Regions from separate parts of the Homo sapiens genome. Here all the other regions are linked to region 1. The links come from fine-mapping of genetic effects on gene expression. A gene starts in region 1. Each other region holds a variant in brackets. All regions are shown on one strand. Distances are from middle to middle.

Region 1 (5,218 bases):
AGGGGCCCAGGGCCCGCGAGGCGGAGTCCCAGGCCACAGACCTGGTGAGCTTCTCCAAGGGCCCTTCTCAGGGAAGGGCAGGCCAGCAAAAGCAAGCAGAGGAGAGAAGCCGGGTATATCCCCCAAGGAAATGAGTCTTGTGACAGGAAATGAAGTAGAAACAATCTGTCAGGTTCTGGCTCTGGTAGGCCCCGTGTTTACCAGGGTGGATGACAGCCTGATGCCCCGGGACCCCTTTCTCTTCCTCTCTGCCCAGCCCTGGTGCACAGACAGAAGCCCTGGCCTCAGAGATGACCGTTCTGGAGAGGGTGGGGGGATGGCATTTGCCCCTCCCAGCCTCGCCTCCACCTGCCCGCTTTCTCTGCAAATGTGTTTGTGTGTGTGCATGTGGACGAAGGGGGTGGAGACCGAGTTCTCAGAGTTCTGATGGGGTAGGCGGTGGCGGGGACAAAAGCTAGGAGCGGAAGGGAGCTCAGGCAGGAGGCAGGGCACTGGGGGCACAGGATGTGGTCTGGGAGAGAATGAGCTGCACTTCTCCTTTGCAAGATGGCCCCTCCCCGCCACCTCAGGATTCTTCCTACTATCACCCCAGGGAGCCTAGTCCAAGGGAGATCAGGGACCCAAGACTAGGCGACACGCAGCGAAGACACTCAGAAAGAGATGGGAGACGGGAGGGGAAGGCTCAAGGCAGTCCGGGCAGCAAGGCACTGATGCTTTTCGTCTGCTTGGAGGGCGAGGAGAGATGGAGGGCAGGGTATGGGCAACTGTATGTTTTTGTCACTTCCCCTTTCTGTCCCTGCTTGCGGAGAGGGGACAGAGGAGAGAATTCTGGACAAGAGGGACCCCACTTGGCCTAGAACCTGGGCCCTGTGTAGAGAGTGGGGCAGAGGAGGGTTCTTGGGAAGCTGGGATTTCCGACCCCCCCCCAAGCTCACAGGAGCACGGCTGCACCCTGAGCCGGAATGCTGGGGGAGGAGGGGGCCGGGGGCGGGAGCTGGGAGGGGCCGGGGAGCTCCGGGTAGTTTTCCCCAAGAGTCCACACAGGGAGAGACAGCCTAAGGAAGTAAAGAATAACATTTGGTCTTTGTCAAAAAACAACCAAGGGGGAGGGGAAGGGAACAGACAGTGAGTGTCACACAGCTGCTGAGGTCAATCTGGAGTGTGGGGTTAGGTGGGGGTGGGAGGGAACAGGGCTGTAAGGGGCAGGAATGGCTCCTGGAGCTCACTCATTCCCCATCTCAAGTGTTGCAGAGCAGGCGAGATCAGTGGGGAGGTTTCGACTGGTTCTCCCCAGAAGAGGGAAGAGGATGTGTGCCAGTGCCGGCCTGAGTGTTCCCAGGTGAGCAGGCACCTGCTTAGGGAGAAGTAAGCACTATCCTCCAGCTCTGGTCCCCCACCGTGCAGATGAGAGGAGGAAGAGGCCTGGGCTGGGGTGAGGCTTCGGGAATGCAGTCCTCCTCCCTGATCCTGATCCCCACCCCCAGCTGCCGGCCCAAGGTCATAGGCTGCCTCCTGAGTAGCTGAGGCTTGACTCACCTGTCACAGTTAAGTCCCCCACCCCCTACCATCCACAGACACCAGGGTGGAGGGTGCATGGTTGGACAGATCCTGCGGGTGGAGGCGTGGAAGGACAGTCTCTAGCTGGCCAGCACTCCCAGCTAGGAGATAAGATTTCCTTCCCTCCAGCAACGGCCTCAAGTCCCTCCCCCGGGGGAAAGCAGAAACTGAAATGGGAATTCTAAGATCCCTATGAGGTCACAGGCTCCACAGTGACCTCACAGGCTTAGGAAGGAGGAGGAGGAATCTCAGATAAGCCGGTTGGGGATAATAGGCGGAAGAGCTCAGGGAGAAAAGAGTGAGGGGAGGTAGAGATTTGTTTCTTTCCCATAGGCTGGAGAGCTGCGTGGACAGTGGAGAGGGCCAGGACCTTAGGGGGCGGGGTTGCGGCACAGAAAGCAGAAACCTCGGGCTTAGGGGCCAGTCACTGGGAAGGGGGTGCCCGGGGCTGCTCGGATCTCGGTGGGACGGGGGTTAAGAGGTGTAGATGAAGAGGGAGAGAAAGCAGTTATTAGAGGAGCTCGTGGGGACTGCTTCATAGACCGATTGGAGCTGAGGTTAAGAGATCATGTAAATAAGCCAACCAGGTGAGGGGCGGGACCATCCTACAGGTGCGCAGATATGCAAATAAAGAGAAAGGAGGAATCTCTCCCAACGCTCGGAGGCGCAGGGCGTTCTGTGCAAACGAGAAGCACGTTCATTGTCTAGGGGGTTCTCAAAGATGGGAGAGGATGGCTGCAGGTTTAGGGCAATCAGGAGGGGCAGCAACCCTGGCCGCCAGGTGAAGGGGCGGGCCCGACTCCCGGGCCGGGCGGGGCCCGGGGTGGGGCTATGCAAATGAGGGACCCGGTTGGGCCCGGGGCCCGGCTGCACTCACCAGCCTGGGTGATGTCTGACAGGTCGTAGCTACGGGCCGCGCCCCGGGGGAAGTGCTTCAAGCGCCGGTTAGACAGGTTCAGGGTCCCGGTGGCCACGGCCTCCTCTAGGGCCCGCTCTGCACTGCGTCTCCCCGGCAGACCTGGAGACCCGGGCACGGAGGTCGTGGCTGCCGCCTCCTCACCCCCGGCGGCGAGTGGAGCCGCTACGGCCGCCGCCATCCGCTCCCGGCGGCTCCCGCTGCCTGACTGACGGGACCGGCCGTCCCTCCTTCCCCCACCCCCTCCTTGGAGCCGCCGTAGTTGCCTCAAGGGGGAGGGAGCGGTGTCCGGGACCGGACGGACCAATCGTGGCCCCGAGACGCGTCAGAAGCGGCCAATCAGAACCCGTCAGTGGGGGTGGAGCTCCGGCGCCGGAGTCTGACGAGAGAAGGGAGGGGAACAAGGATAGAGCGCTCGCCAACGGCCGACGCTCCAGGCCGTCCCGCCCAGCGCAGCTGCACCCAATCACAATGCTCAGATCGGGAGGTGGAGCCAATCAGGTCCAACCAAGAGGAGGGGACACCGGCACTCCACTAGCAGGAAAACGGGCCGAGGGACCGCAAGCAGGGGGTGCCTAGTCCTCGTCCCCCAAAGACCAATCGTAAGCCAGATACAGGCGAGTGACTGTCAAGAAGGCCAATTAGAGCCTCCGAAGGGAATCTGGACCTGCCTCTTCTCTGAGGGACGGCTCTACCTACCAATAGCATGGGCGAGAAGGCGGTCCCTTTGCTAAGGAGGAGGCGGGTGAGCTAGAACTTTAAGACTGAGGTTAAGAATGAACGCGGAGCCCCTGGCCGGCCGGGAACGCAGTTCGCCGCTGCAGTGGCGAGTGCGAGCTGGACGTGTTAGGGGGCTAGCCGGCGTCCAGGGCTTGAGGGGATTCGGGCGACTGCTTGAGGCCAGTGCACTGGCGGTTGTCGCAGCTGAAGGGGCAGCGGGGGGACCTCCGACTGTGAAGCCTCTGGCAGGGGTCTCGGGACCCCCGGGCTGGGGGCGGGCGGGGGGCTTCCCAGAGCCTGGAGATGCCCAGCTCGAGGAGGGAGGGTGTAGGTGCAGCGTTGCACGGTCTGCCGTCTCACCCGAGGAGCTCCCCTGGACAGGAATGGAGAGGGGACCAGACCACGGGGTTTTAGAGGCTTAGAAAGGATCTCACCGCCTAGAACACGCCCTTGGTGCTACGAATGCAGAAACTGAGGCAGAGGGAAGTTGATGCGTTAGCAAGAGCGAACAGCAAGTTCCTGACAGCTGGCTTGCTCTAGAAACCAGGTCTCTGGATCCTCCACGCACAGCCCTTTCCCGCTCCCTCAGTTTTCACAGTGGATGTTTTCACTCCCTTCCTCTCTTCCTCCCTCCCTCCCTCTCCCTTCCGTTCCCTTCCTCTTTTTATTTTTTTATTTTTTGAGATGGAGTCTCGCTCAGTCGCCCAGGCTGGAGTGCAGTGGCGCGATCTCGGCTCACAGCAACCTCCACTGTCCGGGTTCAAGCAATTCTCCTGCCTCAGCCTCCCGAGTAGCTGGGACTACAGGCGCCCGCCACCACACCCGGCTAATTTTTTGTATTTTAGTAGAGACGGGGTTTCACCGTGTTGCCCAGGCTGGTCGCAAACTCAGGAGCTCAGGCAATATGCCCTCCTCGGCCTCCCAAAGTGCTGGCATTACAGGCGTGAGCCACCGCGCCCGGCCTTTTTTTTTTTTTTTTTAAGAAGGTCTGATTCTGTCGCCCAGGCTGGAGTGCAGTGGTGCAGTCATGGCTCACTGCAGCCTTGAATGCCTGGGCTCAAGTGATCCTCCTGCCTCAGCCTCCCAAGTAGCTGGGACCACGGGCGGCACCACTGCACCTGGCTAATTTATTTTCAATTTTTGTAGAGATGGGGTTTTGCTATGTTGCCCAGGCTGGTCTCAAACTTTTGACCTCAAGCGATCCTGCCTCTGCCTCCCAAAGTACTGGGATCACAGGCGTGAGCCACCGCACCCGGCCCACAGTGGACTTTTTCTTTCTTTTGAGACAGAGTCGCTCTGTTGCCCAGGCTGGAGTGCAGTGGCTTGATCGCAGCTCACTGCAGCCTCAACCTCCCACCTCAGCCTCCCGAGTAACTGGGACTACAAGCACGCACCACCATGCCAGCTAATTGTATTTTTTGTAGAGACAGGGTCCTACTATGTTGCCCAGGCTGATCTCAAACTCCTGGGCTCAAGCAATGCTCCCACCTCGGCCTCCCGAAGTGCTGGGATTATAAGCGTGAGCCACAAAGCCTGGCCCACAGTGGACTTTTTCTATTCACAACCTCTCGTTTGCCTCCTGGGGTGAAATGGAGTGGATAAAGGGGACCCAAATGCAAGAGGAATGGAAAATACCTTTCTGTCTACTTGGAGATCTTCCTTTCTAAGTGGCATGAGTCCCTAATGCAGTCCCCTCCCTATGTGGTAGGTTGCCCAGAAATAAGTCACTGAAGTTGCTTTCTCCTTAGTTCACATCTCAGAGGTTGATATTCCTGAGTAGTTGCTGAAGAATTAAAATTCCATCTCAGGCATCCCAGCCTAGCCATGGCTAGGCACCATACATAAGGGAATTTGGGTGGTCAGTCTGGTGCAGTCAATGAACGGATCTGTGACACTGTGTGGTGAGGGCTGGTGGTCTGGCAGGATGGGACTCCTTTGAGCCCCTGCAAGAGCCAGCCACTCCTTGGATTTATTGGTGTAGATCTGGCCTGAGTGGGACAGACACAACCCTGACCCCTGCTGTTT
Region 2 (5,218 bases), 470 kb before region 1:
CAGGTGTGGGGACAGGGGCTTCAGTCACCAGCAGGAGGCTCTGCACATGGTCTGCTCCAATCCGGTCAATGTTGCTCAGCACAGGGCCGTCCAGCACACTGCGGATCCGCTCCCCTTCCTGCTGCAGCCGGGGCAGAATCAGAGTCTTGATAACCTGTTAGAAGGGAAAAGGACAAGCAAAAGCCGGAGGGTCACCAGGGTCTCCCAGATGGGGGTACAGTGCCCTCTATAACCTCATGACTGTGTCCCCTCCCCCATTTCTTCCTCCCAGAGGCCTAACATCGTGTCCCAGCTCAGCCAAGCCTGCGATGGAGCCATAACGAGTCGTCCAGGGCGTCTTCTCGTCCACCCAGCTCTGTAAGGGGAAGGAAATAAACTAAGATGAAGGGGTCTGAAAGGATGATTGACAGGGACCTAAGTCTTTCATAGACACTTTCCTTGTAAATCATTAAGACATTACAATGAGGCCAGACGTGGTGGCTCACACCTGTAATCCCAGCACTTTGGGAGGCCGAGGCAGGCAGATCACCTGAGGTCAGGAGTTCCAGACCACCCTAGTCAACATGGTGAAACTCTGTCTCTACTAAAAATACAAAAATTAGCCAGTTGTGGCCAGGTGCAGTGGCTCATACCCGTAATCCCAGCACTTTGGGAGGCCAAGGCAGGCAGATCACCTGAGGTCGGGAGTTCTAGAGCAGCCTGACCAACATGGAGAAACCCCGTCTCTACTAAAAACACAAAATTAGCTGGGTGTGGCGGCACATGCCTGTAATCCCAGCTACTCGGGAGGCTGAGGCAGGAGAATCATTGGAACCCAGGAGGCGGAGGTTGTGGTAAGCCAAGATTGCACCATTGCACTCCAGCCTGGGCAAGAAGAGCGAAACTCCATCTCAAAAAAACAAAAACAAAAAAATTAGCCAGTTGTGGTGGCAGGTGCCTGTAATCCCAAGTACTCAAGAGTCTGAGGGAGAAGAATCGCTTGAACCCAGGAGGCAGAGGGTGCGGTCAGCAGAGATTGCACCACTGCACTCCAGCCTGGGCAAGAGCGAGACTCCATCTCAAAAAAAAAAAAAAAAGGTATTACAGACAAGCCTCAAGACCCTTAGACCCCCACAAGTTCCAGTCCCTCTTCCCTCTGCCCCCTTGTTTCCAGTGTGACTTCCCCCAACCAGAGGTGGCCAGTGATGAAGCAAATGACGCTCAAGTTTTCCTGGCTCACCTTGGTGAAGGTCTTGGTGATCCGGGACTGGATGTTGTTAGTGGTTGTGCTAAAATGCTTGCAGATCTGGGCCACCAGGCGGGCAGCAAAGTCTCGGAGTGCCCAGTGATTGTCCACATCTGGTCGCAGGCACAACTGTCTGCTCACGATGCAGGTCATCACAGCTGGAATCAGCTCATGGACCTAAGGGAGAAAGGGCGGGACAGCTGATTCTGGTTTTGTTTGTCTGCTTGAGATAAAGTCTTGCTCTGTCACCCAGGCTGGTGTGCAGGGACACAATCATGGCTAACTGCAGCATCAATCTCCCGGGCTCAAGCAATTCTCCCATCTCAGCCTCCCAGGTAGCTGGGGCCACAGGTGTGCACCACCATGCCTGGCTAATTTTGTTTTGGTTAATTTTTTTTGTAGAGATAGCAGTCTCACTACTGTCCTCAGGCTGTCCTCAAACTCCTGAGCTCAAGCAATCCTCCCACTTCGGCCTCCCAAAGTTGCTGGGATTTCAGGTGTGAGCCACTGCTGACCACTGACTTCCTGTTGGTGGCAGCAGGGTCCCTAGTCCCTGGAAGGGAGGATGGGCAGGATCACTCACGTATTTTTCTAGATAGAGCGTGGGGTTGTCCATCAGCGCTTTCACCATACGCATCAGGTAGATGAGTAGGGCCAGGTTGTTCTGAACCACGTTCACACGGACCTGTGGGAGGGAGAAGTGCTGGGCATGGGGCAGGGAGACCCTCACAGGAGCTTCCACTGCCGTCCCTGCACTGTGGAACCTCATGCTCTCACCCCCTCCGAGATAAAGGTACTGAACCGTGGCAGCATCTGATACAGTCCAGGGTCCGTGGCAATGCTTTGCAGGGCTTCCTGTGGGAGGAGGGAAGCCAGTCAGGTGGGGGTGGGATGTGGGGAGCAATTCATAGGGCCCCCAGGAGGAGGCGTCTCAGGGCCAGGGCAAGCTGGTGGGGCCCTCACCGCCCTCTTGGCCTCGCAGGAGCCCACGCAGGCCTCGGTGATCTCCTTGTAGTAGAGCTGCTGCTCCACAGACAACTCGTGGATGCTCCGGGGCTTCAGTCGCAAGGGGGCCCCCTCCAGCAAGGGCGGCGCCTTCTTCTCTTTCCCTGTGTGATTGGAAAGGTGGGTCTGACAAAGAAAGCTCCAGAAGAAACCTCA[G/A]TAACAGAAGAACCTTAACCCTCCACTTCCCCTGAGACCCAGGAGACCTGGCTTCTTCTTAGGCTCCCCCATCCTTTCTGGGGCTCTGGCCCTGACCTCAGCCACTTCACCAATGGCCACATGGAGGCCTGGCATGGTGGCTCACACCTGTAATCCCAGCACTTTGGGAGGCCAAGGCGGGCGGATCACATGAGGCTGAGTTTGAAACCAGCCTGGCCAACATAGCAAAACCCTGTCTCTACTAAAAAAAATTACAAAAATTAGCCGGGCGTGGTGGTGGGCACCTGTAAGCCCAGCTACTCAGGAGGCTGAGGCAGGAGAATCGCTTGAACCCTGGAGGTGGAGGTTGCAGTGAGCTGAGATCGTACCACTACACTCCAGCCTGGGTGACAGAGTGAGACTCTGTCTCAAAAACAAAAAAAAAGGAAACAAAACAAACGGCCATGTGGCTTTGGGCAAGAGTCCAGAGAGGCCTAGCCTAGGAGGACTGACCTTTGCCGTCGGCTGTGGTGGCCCCTTGACCTTTGCCCTTCAGGGGTCCGTCTTCCTCCTGGCCTGGCTTGGCTGACTTCAGGGGTTCTGTGGCTTCAGCCTTCTGTTGCTCTTTGGGAGCTGGTGGGAAAGCAGGCACAGCGGGAGGGGTGATGAGCATAGTAGAAAAGTAAAAGGTGGGAGGAGGCCGGATGCGGTGGCTCATGCCTGTAATCCCAGCACTTTGGGAGGCCAAGGCGGGTGGATCACCTCAGGTCAGAAGTTCGAGACCAGCCTGGCCAACATGGTGAAACCTCGTGTCTACTAAAATTACAAAAAATTAGCCGGGCGTGGTGGTGTGTGCTTGTAGTCCCAGCTACTCAGGAGGCTGAGACACAAGAATCGCGTGAACCCAGGAGGCACAGGTTTGCAGTGAGCCAAGATTGAGCCACTGCACTCCAGCACTCCTGCACTCCAGCACAGGCAACAGAGTGAGACTCTGTCTCAAAAAAAAAAGGTGGAAGGAAGGGGAAAGGGACCCAGAGACCCAGAGGGTGGGGCATGGAGGTTACCTGGGGGCGGGTTCTCGGGGATAGCTGGCTGGCAGCCCTCGATGCTCAGCCAATGAGCTGCAAGGAAGGCAGGTGTCAAGGTGAATTGCCACGCATGGACATTGGGGAGTTGCCCCATGCTATGGAAGCGTGTTTCCACTCCTGCTCCCCTTGCAACTCACCAGGGATCTCACACTGAGCTTTTCTTCTATTGTGAGGCTCCTCACACCTACACACATCTGTCCTCCTTTCCCTCCTCCCTGCCACCCTGCTCTCCCCTCCCCCAACCTTTGAGGCAGACGTCCAGGGGCACCCGGGGCAGAGGGGTATTGATGATGTCGCTCAGATCAACCTCCTTCTCCTCATAGAAGTAAAGCTCCCGGCCCCCACCAGAGGCGAAGCGGAAAGGAATGAACTCCTGGGCGTGGAAGCCATAGAGTGGCTGTGGCAGGAGAGAGGGGCATGGGTAAGAAGGGAGCCGGAGGAGACCTGGCTGAAGGATGGCGTCTCACCCCCCCCCCGCCTGTCTCCCCAAATCACCTCGACATTCTTTAGCTTCAAGGCGTAGTCAATGTCACTGGTGGTGAGCTTCTGCCGCTTCCCCATGTGCATGAACTTCAAGGCATCCTGGGGTCGGTGACAGAACAGACATCAGCCCAAAATCCTAAGGACGGGGCCCTGGGTGACATGGACCCAATGTAGAGCTGGACAGAAGGGCCGGGTCACCTGTGCGATCTCTTTGATGCGGTAGCTGACCTCATCCGTTAGCAGCTGGCAGGTCTCCTCCTGAATCTGGGCGATGCCCATGGATTCAGCCACCACCTTCATGGACTCCGAGGGCAGCACAGTGTTGCTAAGCTTCAGCTTCTTCTCCTCAGCCATTCTGGAGTCCCTCTTCTCCTCCCTGGAAGGATGAAGCCCCCGGTGGAGAGACGGAGACCCTGGCAGAGGAACGGGGCAGGCAGAAGAAAAAGAAACGTGAGACACAGGGAGAGGGCCAACAAAGGGAGGACAGTGGAGACAGGGGAGGAACTCCGAGTGTCTTATGTCCATCCCCACGTGAGTCAGCCCTGAGGTGTAACAGAGAAAGATACAAATCTGGGCTGGGGCCAGGTTCAGTGGCTCACGCCTGTAATCCCACCAGCACTTTGGGAGGACGAGGCGGGCGGATCACTTGAGGTCAGGAATTCGAGACCAGCCTGGCCAACATGGAGAAACCCCATCTCTACTAAAAATACAAAAATTAGCAGGGCGTGGTAGTGCACACCTGTAATCCCAGCTACTAGGGAGACTAAGGCACGAGAATCACTTGAAACCAGAGGGCAGAGGTTGCAGTGAGCCGAGATCACGCCACTGCACTCCAGCCAGGGTGACTCCGTCTCAGGAAAAAAAAAAAAAAAATCTGGACTGGGCCTAGTGGCTCATGCCTGTAATTCCAACACTCTGGGAGCCCAAGGTAGGAGGATCGCTTGAGCCCAGCAGTTCACGACCAGCCTGGACAACACAGTGAGACCCCATCTGTACAAAAAATACAAAAATTAGCTGGGTATGCAGGCACAGGGCTGTTGTTCTAGCTACTCAGGAGGCAGAGGTGGGAAAACTGATAGAGCCCAGGAGCTCCTAGGCTCAAGCAATCCTCACACCTCAGCCTCCCAAGTAGCTGGGACTATAGGTGTGTACCACTACACACAGCCAATTTTTTGCAGGGGCAGGGGCAGAGACAGAGTCTCACTATGTTGTCCAGGCTGGTCTTGAACTGCTGGGCTCACGCAGTCCTCCTGCTTCGGCCTCCCAAAGTGTTGGAATTACA
Region 3 (5,218 bases), 68 kb before region 1:
TTTATTTTTTATTTTTTGAGACGGAGTTTTGCTCTGTCATCCAAGCTGGAGTGCAGTGGCACGATCTTGGCTCACTGCAACCTCTGCTTCCTGGGTACAAGCAATTCTCCTGCCTCAGCCTTCTGAGTTGCTGGGATTACAGGTGCACACCACCACGCCTGGCTAGCTTTTTTAGTAGAGATGGAGTTTCACCATGTTGGCCAGGCTGGTCTTGAACTCCTGACCTCAAGTGATCAGCCCACCTCAGCCTCCCAAAGTGCTGTGATTACAAGCATGAGCCACCGTGCTGGCCAGACCTCCCTCTCTTTCAGCAACTAAAGAGTTAATCCCCAGCATAGCTGTTGATCTCCAGGAACAGGACTTAGTGCTAAAATCAGTGTCTGTTCTAAATGGCTGCCGGCCATGTGGTAACCAGCTGTGAAATATTTTGAATATCACCCCTGGCTGTGGCCACAAAAAGGCAAAAGCCAAGTAGGTGTGGTAAATTTGCTGCAAGAAATGGCCTAACATACTGAGTTGAGGTTTTGGCTTCTGTTTGAAGTAGTGGCAGGAACAGAGCAGATGGGCGGGCCTGGGTTCAGCTTGGTTTGTAAAACAAGATAATTCCTTAGCTTAATGAACAAAGATCTAAGTCAAGTCAACACACTACATAGTCACAGTCCTTCTAGCCTTAACCATCCCTTCTCTCTTTTTTTTTTTTTCGTAGAGATGGGATCTCACTCTGCTGCCCAGGCTGGTCTCCTCCTGCCTTGGCCTCCCAAAGTGTTGGAATTACAAGTGTGAGCCACTGTGCCTGGCCCTGAATAAGTTTCTTGACCCAGAGTTCCTGAAGAGGAGGATGGGAACCTTGGAGGCTGTTTCTCCAGGCTGGTTAGTACCAAAGATGGACAGGACTTGAAAAATAATGGAGGATTACCTTGGGCTTAATTACGTGGGTACTTGATATGCTGTCTTCAATTTAGAGAAAGGGTCTCACTCTGTTGCCCACAGTGGAGTACAGAGGCACAACCACAGCTCATCACAGCCTCAAACCCACAGGCACGGATGGACACAGTGGCTCATGCCTGTAATCCCAGCACTTTGGGAGGCCAAAGTGGGTGGACCACCTGAGGTCAACAGTTTGAGACCAGCCTGACCAACATGGTTAAACCCCGTCTCTACTAAAAAAAAAAAAATACAAAAATTAGGGCGTGGTGGCGGGCACCTGTATTCCCAGCTACTCGGGAGGCTGAGGCGGGAGAATTGCTTGAACCCAGGAGGCAGAGGTTGCAGTGAGCCGAGATCACGCCATTGCACTCCAGCCTAGGTAACAGAGAGACTCCGTCTCAAAACAAATCAAAACAAACAAAAAAACCCAAACAAACAAATAAAAAACTGCAGGCACATGCCACTGCACCTGGCTAAATTTTTTTTTAATTTTTTTAATTTTTTTTTTTAAAGAGATGGCATTTCACTATGTGGCCCAGACTGGTCTCCCAACTCCTAGCACCAAGCAATTCTCCCTCCTTAGCCTCCCAAAGTGCTGGGATTATAGGCATGAACCATTGCACCTGGCCTCTGTTTCTCTTTACCCATCCCAGCTATTTATCTTTACCTGGAAGGGGTAGCAGTATCCTTTCACAGGGACCTAGTCCACTTTACCTAGGGACCAGCCATCTAGGTTTACCTGAAACTGTTATTCGGGCACTGAAAGTTCTGCATCCTAGGAAGCCCCCAGGTCCCTGGCAAACTGGGATGGTTGATCACACTAACTGACTCCTCTGTAGGATGTCATCCTGATCGTCATTGACAATATCATGCTGATTTGCCTTGGACTTGAAGTATCAAAGATCCCCCAGGTCTTGCTGAGACGTGGATGTAATGGGGTTGTGAGATATAACTGGCAGAAATGCAAGGACCTGTCACATCAGTAGAGCTTAGAAAATCATTAGTAATGAATAGTAAGTTGTAATGAATATTCATTAGTAATGAATAATAATTAGCAATGAATATTCCTTAGTAATATAAGATCTCCTTCAAAATGTGGGGGATGGGAGGGCAGAGAATGAAGGACAAATTGCTGCATTTTATTTATTTTATTTTTTGAGACAGGGTCTTGCTCTGTCACCCAAGCTGGAGTGCAGTGGCATGATCATGGCCCACTGCTGCCTCAACCTCCAGGGCTCAAGTGATCCTCCCACCTCAGCCTCCCACCTCAGCCTGTGGAGTACCTGGGACCACAGGTACACACCACCACACCCAGCTAATTTTTATTTCTTTTTAAAAATTATTATTATTTTTGTTTGTTTGTTTGAGACAAAGTCTCGCTCTGTCATCCCGGCTGGAGTGCAGTGGCGCGATCTCGGCTCACTGCAAGCTCCACTTCCTGGGTTCACGCCATTCTCCTGCCTCAGCCTCCCGAGTTGCTGGGACTATAGGCACCCGCCACCACACCCAGCTAATTTTTTTGTATTTTTAGTAGAGACAGGGTTTCACCGTGTTAGTCAGGATGGTCTCGATCTCCTGACCTCATGATCCACCTGCCTCAGCCTCCCAAAGTGCTGGGATTACAGGTGTGAGCCACCACGCCTGGCCTTAAAAATTATTTATTAATTTTTAAATTTTTTTTCTTTCCAATCATTTGTCACAGTCATATTATTTTTAAATTATTTGTAGAGATGTGGGTCTCCCTATGTTGCCCATGCTGGTCTTGGACACCGGAGCTCAAGTGATCCTGTCTTGGCCTACCAAAGGGCTGGAATTACAGGAATGAGCCACTGCATCAGGCCAACTTGCTACATTTTATACTTTCAACTAATAAGGAATTCTGGAAGCAGCATCTACCTCTATTTTAGCAGGGCTTTTTTCACTGCAAGAAACAAAAAAGTTCACTCAACAAAGCTCAAGTAAGAGAAAGAGATAGATAAGGGAGACC[T/A]GATCTCTTAGAACTAAGCCATAGTGGAATCAGAATTCATGTAGGTTGAAACCCAAGGAAGTTCTGAGTCCAGGAAAAACTCTAGGTGCTTCACAATAGGAATTGGCGAATGGGCCAGACACGGTGGCTCACACCTGTAATCCCAACACTTTGGGAGGCTGAGGCGGGCAGATCACAAGGTCAGGAGATGGATACCATCCTGGCTAACACGGTGAAACCCCGTCTCTACTAAAAATACAAAAAAATTAGCTGGGTGTGGTGGCACACGCCTATAGTCCCAACTACTAGGGAGGCTAAGGCAGGAGAATCGCTTGAACCTGGGAGGCAGAGGTTGCAGTGAGACGAGATTGTGCCACTGCTCTCCAGCCTGGGCGACAGAGCGAGACTCCATCTCAAAAAAAAAAAAAAAGGAATTGGTGAATGTTCCCTCTCCCTCCAAGTGTCAATGTGATTTAGCCACCACCTACCACTTGTTAGTGTTTGTCTCCTTCTACCCGGTTCCACATTTCTCACCTAAAAGGCCCAAGAAAGAAAATCTGATTAATTTATCTTTTCATATTTATTTATTTTTTAAGATGGAGTTTCGCTCTTGTTGCCCAGGCTAGAGTGCAATGGCGCGATCTCAGCTCACTGCAACCTCTGCCTCCTGGGTTCAAGCAATTCTCCTGCCTCATCCTCCTGAGTAGCTGAGATTACAGGCATGCACCACCACCGCCCGGGTAATTTTGTATTTTTAGTAGAGATGGGGTTTCTCCATGTTGGTCAGGCTGGTCTTGAACTCCCAACCTCAGGTGATCTGCCCGCCTCGGCCTCTCAAAGTGCTGGGAATACAGGCATGAGCCACCGCGGCCAGCCTATCTTTTCATTTTTTAAAACTTATGTTTTAGGTTGGGTTTTGTTTTGTTTTGTTTTGTTTTGTTTGGAAACAGGGTCTCACTCTGTTGCCCAGGCTGCAGTAGTGCAGTGGCATGATCATGGCTCACTGCAGCCTTAAACTCCTGGGCTCAAACAATCCTCCCACCTCAGCCTCCCTAGTAGCTGGCTACCACACTGGCTAATTATTTTACTTTTTATTTTTTGTAGTGATGGAGTCTTGTTGTGTTGCCCAGCCTGGCGTCTAACCCCTGGCCTCAAGCGATCTTCCTGCCTTGGCCCCCCAAAGTGCTGGAAGTATAGGCATGAGTCACCACGCCCAGCCAAATTTGTGTCTTATTTTTAATAAATTTGGACGTGGTCGTAATTTAAAGAGTTAAATACTTCCAAAGACATGTTAGAAAAAAGAGAAGATCCTTTTCAACTCTCCTCCATTTTCAGCTCCTCAGAAGTAAGCATTTTTTCAGTTCTTATAGCTGATCTTTTGTTATTTGGTTTATATTTATATGTCTAAATAATACAGTTATGTCTTTAGCTCTTGGTTTTTTTTTTCAGTATTACCTATTATCTATTGACTTACCGTGTGGACAGTGAGGGTTAGCTCTCTTTCACTTCCCAGTCACACACACCAGTCACACACACACACACCAGTCACACACACACACACCAGTCACACACACACACACACACACACACACACTTCCCATCCCACCATCCTCTGAACACAGACAGTCCCCCAATTTAGGATGGTTTGACTTAATGATTTTCTTAACTTTACAATGAGTTAATCAGGACTCAGTCCCATCATAAGTCAGGGAGCTAGGATGGTTTGACTTAAGGATTTTCTTGATTTTATAATGAATTAATCAGGACACAGTTCCATCATAAGTCAGGGAGGCTCTGTATTTGTCATTTTAGTTAGAAAGAGATTTAGGATTTTATGTATGTGTGTGTATATATATACACACACATATATGTATACATATATATATAAGTATATATGTATATGTGTGTATATGTATACACATATATATACGTATATGTGTGTAAGTATGTGTGTGTGTGTGTATATATATATATATATATAGAGAGAGAGAGAGAGAGAGAGAGAGAGAGAGAGAGACGGAGTTTCACTCTTGTCACCCAGGCTGGAGTACAATGGTACGATCTCGGCTCACTGCAACCTCCGCCTCCTGGTTTCAAGCGATTCTCCTGCCTCAGCCTCCCAAGTAGCTGGGATTACAGGCGCCCACTGCCACGCCCAGCTAATTTTTTTTTTTTTTGGTATTTTTAGTAGAGACGGGGTTTCGCTATGTTGGTCAGCCTGGTCTCAAACTCCTGGCCTCAGGCGAGCCACCTGCCTCGGCCCCCCAAAGTGCTGGGATTACAGGTGTGACCCACCGCGCCTGTCCTAGGGTTATATTTTTATAA

Which allele goes with the higher level. Alleles are on the strand shown, and positions count from the first base shown. SD is a standard deviation of normalised expression in the study named. Not every link is listed here.
For the expression in esophagus mucosa of the gene that starts at base 2,683 in region 1, allele T in region 3 goes with a higher level than allele A (small effect, 0.25 SD a copy in GTEx).

Evidence for each region. PIP is the estimated chance that this variant, and not a neighbour inherited with it, causes the effect. A credible set is the group of variants that fine-mapping cannot tell apart.
Region 2: its variant is the best candidate, but not a certain one, in a credible set for the expression of LRCH4 in whole blood (TOPMed, PIP 0.84).
Region 3: its variant is the best candidate, but not a certain one, in a credible set for the expression of LRCH4 in esophagus mucosa (GTEx, PIP 0.65).

Annotation. Positions count from the first base shown.
Region 1 is chr7:100,583,447-100,588,664 of GRCh38, forward strand. It overlaps LRCH4 (leucine rich repeats and calponin homology domain containing 4), which reads right to left and starts at 2,683. Exons shown (of 18, transcript NM_002319.5): 1 at 2,435-2,683. The coding sequence starts at 2,654. FBXO24 (F-box protein 24) reads left to right here and starts at 2,882. Exons shown (of 10, transcript NM_033506.3): 1 at 2,882-3,218. The coding sequence starts at 3,180. RefSeq lists enhancers at 158-846, 300-594, 567-726, 992-1,505, 1,506-2,019 and silencers at 2,161-2,210, 2,251-2,680, 3,441-3,560.
Region 2 is chr7:100,109,920-100,115,137 of GRCh38, forward strand. TAF6 (TATA-box binding protein associated factor 6) reads right to left here. Exons shown (of 15, transcript NM_139315.3): 2 at 4,135-4,349; 3 at 3,949-4,035; 4 at 3,697-3,850; 5 at 3,430-3,486; 6 at 2,879-2,998; 7 at 2,189-2,334; 8 at 2,003-2,080; 9 at 1,809-1,910; 10 at 1,220-1,402; 11 at 281-355; 12 at 29-154. The coding sequence starts at 4,290. Among named protein-coding and RNA genes, the nearest start is that of TAF6, 6.8 kb to the right of the region's middle. RefSeq lists a silencer at 707-934. The variant G/A (reference allele first, on the strand shown) is at 2,387.
Region 3 is chr7:100,515,887-100,521,104 of GRCh38, forward strand. It overlaps LOC107986829 (a long non-coding RNA gene), which reads left to right. Exons shown (of 4, transcript XR_001745301.2): 3 at 707-870; 4 at 3,998-5,218. Among named protein-coding and RNA genes, the nearest start is that of AGFG2, 21 kb to the right of the region's middle. The variant T/A (reference allele first, on the strand shown) is at 2,915.